Linked DNA regions of Homo sapiens: region 1 is linked to region 2. The links come from fine-mapping of genetic effects on gene expression. Tissue or cell type: whole blood. Region 2 holds a variant in brackets; the other region holds the start of a gene. All regions are shown on one strand. Distances are between the middles of the regions.

Evidence for each region. PIP is the estimated chance that this variant, and not a neighbour inherited with it, causes the effect.
Region 1: ZNF550 starts here. The variant in region 2 is fine-mapped to the expression of ZNF550 in whole blood (TOPMed, PIP 0.96).

Annotation. Positions count from the first base shown.
Region 1 is chr19:57,558,672-57,561,358 of GRCh38, forward strand. ZNF550 (zinc finger protein 550) reads right to left here and starts at 1,192. Exons shown (of 4, transcript NM_001397372.1): 1 at 985-1,192. The coding sequence starts at 1,011. LOC124904781 (a long non-coding RNA gene) reads left to right here and starts at 1,271. Exons shown (of 2, transcript XR_007067357.1): 1 at 1,271-1,447. RefSeq lists enhancers at 234-313, 458-1,322, 764-813, 1,300-2,499, 1,444-1,553.
Region 2 is chr19:57,535,592-57,538,278 of GRCh38, forward strand. It overlaps ZNF549 (zinc finger protein 549), which reads left to right. Exons shown (of 4, transcript NM_001199295.2): 4 at 1,613-2,687. Among named protein-coding and RNA genes, the nearest start is that of ZNF549, 9.6 kb to the left of the region's middle. The variant T/A (reference allele first, on the strand shown) is at 1,614.

The DNA.
Region 1 (2,687 bases), 23 kb after region 2:
GCAACAGACGAGACCTCTTTAAGCAGCGGACACCAGAGGGAGTCAGAAATAAAGCAAAGGAGGGAGAGGTGGATGAGAAATTAACAACTACGACAGGAGCTGACAGTAATCTGGGCTATCATGAAAGTAATCAGAGTGACTGCTAGAGAGTAACCCTGGGCCTCATGTGTTATCTCCAAAGGGACACTACATCCTGCATACCATCGCCACTGAACATTTTAATGGACTCGTTTTTCACCTGTAACTAAATGTCTTAAACAGGAAAATATACTGTTAGTTGCAACCCAGCGTCCCTTGCCCTAAACTGAAAGACAAATTCCTCAGCCTGCCCTACCACCTTTTCTGCCCTGGCATAGCAGCAACCGCAGAAACGCTCCTCCCACCTCTTTCAGCCGCTGCCCTTCGTGTTGTAGAGACAGGAGGCCAAGGAGGCCAGAGGGTCAGACTCCTGCTGGGGTTGAGTCTCCAAACCTAGCACAGGCCCAGGGAGCAGCTCCGGAAACAACATCCTGAGCGACGTCCCCGGACCGTGCTGTGCACTGAGACGGACACACACACATCACCCAGGGAGCCGTTCAAGCTTCCTCAACCCCGGGGGGGGGAAGAGTAAATATTTCTACTTTGCGCGCGCAAAAATGAAGGACGAGGACAGTAACGGGACTTGTTCAAGGTCGCAGGCCCGAGAAAGGACATGGTTGGAAGAGCCACGAGGAGGACTGCGGTCGCTCCTCTCACCTGTGAGGGGTTCCGGGACCCTAAAAGCCCTATTTCATACCACAACGCCGCGCACCCCAGAAACGGGGACGCTCCCCACGCCACCGCGGGCCTGCATTCCGGACCCGGGACCGCGCGACCCCCTTCTAGGCCTCTAAGAAGCAACGGCAGGGACTGCACTGAGGACGACCCTGAAACGCCGTCCTTCCGCTCGTCGGGCCCGGGACACTGAGGCCGGGTGGCCGCGGGGAGCCGAGCCAGTCTGCTCACCTGCGCTGCGTCCTTCGTCTCCGCCATCCGACCGTTGGCAGGACGAGGCCGCGTGGGGCAGCTCCCACGGGCTCAAAACCCTACCCCGGGTCCTACAACGGTGCGGAGGTGAGCCCCAGTCGCCCTACCATCCTTCCCAGCACAGTTCTGAGAGCGCGGACCAACACGCCCCACCACAAACGTCCACGCCAGCGAGGCCGGAAGTCCCGCCCCTGTGTCGCGGTCGCCTGCCACGCCTTTTCCTGCGCCGGCCCACTGCCTTCTAGGTAATGTAGTCTTGTCCCGTAAGAGGCCAGGCTTGGCTCTTTTTCCTTTTTTATTATGCACACCATGTTTCTGTATATCTCAGATGATCTTAGCGGAGCAAGTGTACACACTGGATTGTAAATTTTTAAAACTTCCTATTATTCGGATGCCTCAACGTCCCTACAAGCAGGCTGTGAGCACTCGCCCAGGCACCCAGGTAAACGAGTTTGATAAAGGGGGCCCTGCCACGAGGTTCCCCGCTTGCCTCCTCTGAGTGACCCAGTGACATTCCCATGTACCAGTAAAATCTTACGCCTGGTTACTGCGTCCTCCTCCACCCTGACGCCAGGCACTGTCCCTGGGACTGGCGTGGATCTGGACCCCCGCTTCCCGCGTGGAGCCATTCCCGGGACATGCTCGTGGGGTTCCGTCTGTGGGACGTCTGCCTCCTCTGTGTGGACTGGTGTTGCCCAGGGCTCAGGAAGGTCTCCAGGGGCCGTGAGTCCCCGCCCGCTTCCGGAGTCCAGCTTCGTGACACCATCGTGAGAAAGAATGCAGGGATGAGTCAAAATGAAGCCAAAGGCAAGAAGCTTTTATTGGGAAGAAAAAGTACACATTTTTGAGAAGAGTGTACTTTTCCCAAGAGAAGAGGGAAATGCGGACGTACGAGGGAGAGCGGGTCATGCACAATGGAGTTTGGGTTTCTAATTTTATGGGCTCTTCTAATTAGGGGGTGGGATAATCATGAGGTTTTTCTAGGAAAAGGTGGGAATTTCTTAGAATTGGGGTGCCAACCATTTTTATACTAAATGTGGGCGTGCTTGGATTGGCCTGGCACTGGTGGGTGTGTGATTTAATGTGGCAATGAGTGTATAATTAGGTCTGGGGTAGGAAATGGGTCAAATCTAGCGTCATGGGACAGCCTAGCCCCAATCCTGTTTGTTAAGGTCTCATCAGCCCAGTCTTCTTGTTGGAGTAGCTAATTTTAACAGCTTGATGTTTTCCCCCTTCTCCTGTGACCACACAGCATTCCTATTTTGTGGGTGTTTCTTTAATTAGAGAGTGGAATAATTATTAGGTATTCTGGAAAAGGAGGGAAATTCAGGGACCCACCTGGTTACTGCCCCCTTTCTCTCTTATTTGGCTTTGCCCAGAAGAGTCATGGACATGTCATCCTGACTGGGATTTTGGCCATTCTTTCTCTTATTTTGGGTTTTCTGTTATCCTATGGTTTCTTTGCCTAGTTCTTGTTTTTATTTGTTGTTCGAATTTTTCCATCCTCCTGCAACCACCCAGTGCTATTCCTATATCACTGTGAGTATAAACACCCTTTAACCTTATAGGCTTCTTGAAGTATAATTCCCAAGACCATGTTGCAGTGGTCCTTAAAGAACCAATAAGGCAGAGAGAAACAAACATGTTCCAAATTTTGTTCTCAGGAGTAAACCTTACTCAAT
Region 2 (2,687 bases):
TTAGTAGACGTGTCTTTGGACCTGCCTTTCTCAGGAATTACAGGTACTTACATGGTTGCTATTTGTAGGGAACCCTAGACTATGACAGCAAGACCCCCTCCCAAGGGTTTTTTTGTAATAAATTTCCCTCCTGTAGTCTGTCATGGGTTGGCGCACCCTGGGCCAGTGTTGTTGACCCACCTCCCTGTTTTTCCCTTAGGATTTCTTCTACCTTCCAGGACCCAGATAGTCTCCTGACTTAAGCTGGGGACAGGGGAGAGGCCTGTGTTCCTGAAAGCGTAGTGAAGTCTTCAGCCACAGCAAGGGGGGTTAACAGGGTTTGGGACCTGTGAGTAGGAGCAGTGGGAGGGCATGATTTGAGGGCTGAACTCAAATCATACCAGGCAAATGTCCTATGTTCCCCACTATTTTGGTGCCAGGGCTCATGGCCATACCTCATTTTTCTCTTTTCTCTGCCTGCTTGACAATTTGCCTACTTGTCGTTTCTACTGTGATTGTCCCCTACCTCTGTTCTCCACATCTCTCCTGTTCCTGTTCTGCAGTGTTCTCCAACATTAGCCTATACCTAATGTATTTAATATTATGAGCTGTGCAGATACAGATGTTCCTCAGCTCGTGATGGGGTTATATCCTGATAAACCCATTGTAAGTTGAGAATATCGTAAGTCAGAAATGCATTTAATACACCCAACTTATTAGACATCCTAGCTTAGCAACACAGTAGAGTGTCAGTTGTTTAGCCTGGTGATTGCATGGCTTACTGAGAGCTGCAGCTTGCTACCACTGCATCACAAGAGTATACACACTGCGTATCACTAGCCTGGGAAAAGTTCAAAATTCAAAGTATGGTTTCTACTGAATGTGTCACTTTCGTATCATCATAAAGTGGAAAAATCATAAGTTCAACCATTATAAATCAAAGACTGTCTACTTAAGCTCTCAAACATCAGCTATCCAGTTGTAATTGCATTTTCCTGGGGTGACACACATTCTATGCAGGTCTCCCCTGTCTCCATCAGATGACGTCCTATTGAAAACCATTGACAGAGAAGGGAGTTGTATGCCCCCTGCCTCTCTTCCCACCATAGTACCCCATTCCTTGTTCTCTTGCTGGTTATGGGTCTTCCCCTACATGGTAACCTTAAGAGGCCTAATACTGCAAGTATTATCTTCCTTGACCTGACTCCAGCTCCCTTGTCCTGAAAACAAACCCATGGCCTGGGTGCAATGGCTCGTGCCTATAATCCTAGCACTTGGGGAAGCTGAGGTGGGAGGATCACTTGAGCTAAGGAATTTGAGACCAGCCTCGACAACATAATGAGACCTGTATCTCCACAAGAAATTCTAAAAAAAAATTAGCCAGGTATGGTGGTATATGCCTGTAGTCCTAGCTACTTGGGAGGCTGAGATGGGAGTGTCACTGGAGCTTGGAAGGTCAAGGCTGCAGTGAGATATGACTGCAACTGCACTCCCATCTGGGTGACAGAGCAAGACCCTATCTCAAAGAAAAACCATGGACTCGTCCCTCCCTGTGTTCCACAGGTATTTGTAATGGAGCTGTTCCCTTCTACCAAAGTCTGCATATACTTCACTTGCATTTTTATGCTTTTAGG[T/A]TGTTTGCATGGAATAGAGGCTGAGGAGGCCCCTTCTGAGCAGACTCTTTCTGCGCAAGGAGTGTCACAGGCCAGGACTCCAAAGCTAGGTCCTTCCATCCCAAATGCTCATTCTTGTGAGATGTGTATCCTGGTCATGAAAGACATTTTGTACCTCAGTGAGCATCAGGGGACACTTCCCTGGCAGAAACCTTATACGTCTGTGGCCAGTGGGAAATGGTTTTCATTTGGTTCTAACCTGCAACAGCACCAGAACCAGGACAGTGGAGAGAAACACATCAGAAAGGAGGAGAGCAGTGCCTTGCTTCTGAATAGCTGCAAAATTCCTCTGTCAGACAATCTTTTCCCATGCAAAGATGTTGAGAAGGATTTTCCAACCATCCTGGGCCTTCTCCAACACCAGACCACCCACAGCAGACAAGAGTATGCACATAGAAGCAGGGAGACCTTTCAACAAAGACGTTACAAATGTGAGCAAGTTTTCAATGAGAAAGTTCATGTTACTGAGCATCAGAGAGTCCACACTGGAGAAAAAGCTTATAAGCGTAGGGAATATGGGAAATCCTTGAACTCTAAATACTTATTTGTTGAACACCAGAGAACCCATAATGCAGAAAAGCCTTATGTGTGCAATATATGTGGGAAATCATTCCTCCATAAACAAACACTCGTTGGGCACCAGCAGAGAATTCACACTAGAGAAAGGTCTTATGTGTGCATCGAATGTGGGAAATCCTTGAGCTCCAAATACTCACTTGTGGAACACCAGAGAACCCATAATGGAGAAAAGCCTTATGTGTGCAATGTATGTGGGAAATCATTCCGCCACAAACAAACATTTGTTGGCCATCAGCAGAGAATCCACACTGGAGAGAGGCCTTATGTGTGTATGGAATGTGGGAAATCTTTTATTCATTCCTATGACCGCATTCGACACCAGAGAGTTCACACTGGAGAAGGGGCTTATCAGTGCAGTGAATGTGGGAAATCCTTCATATACAAACAGTCACTTCTTGATCACCATAGAATCCACACGGGAGAAAGGCCTTATGAGTGCAAAGAATGTGGGAAGGC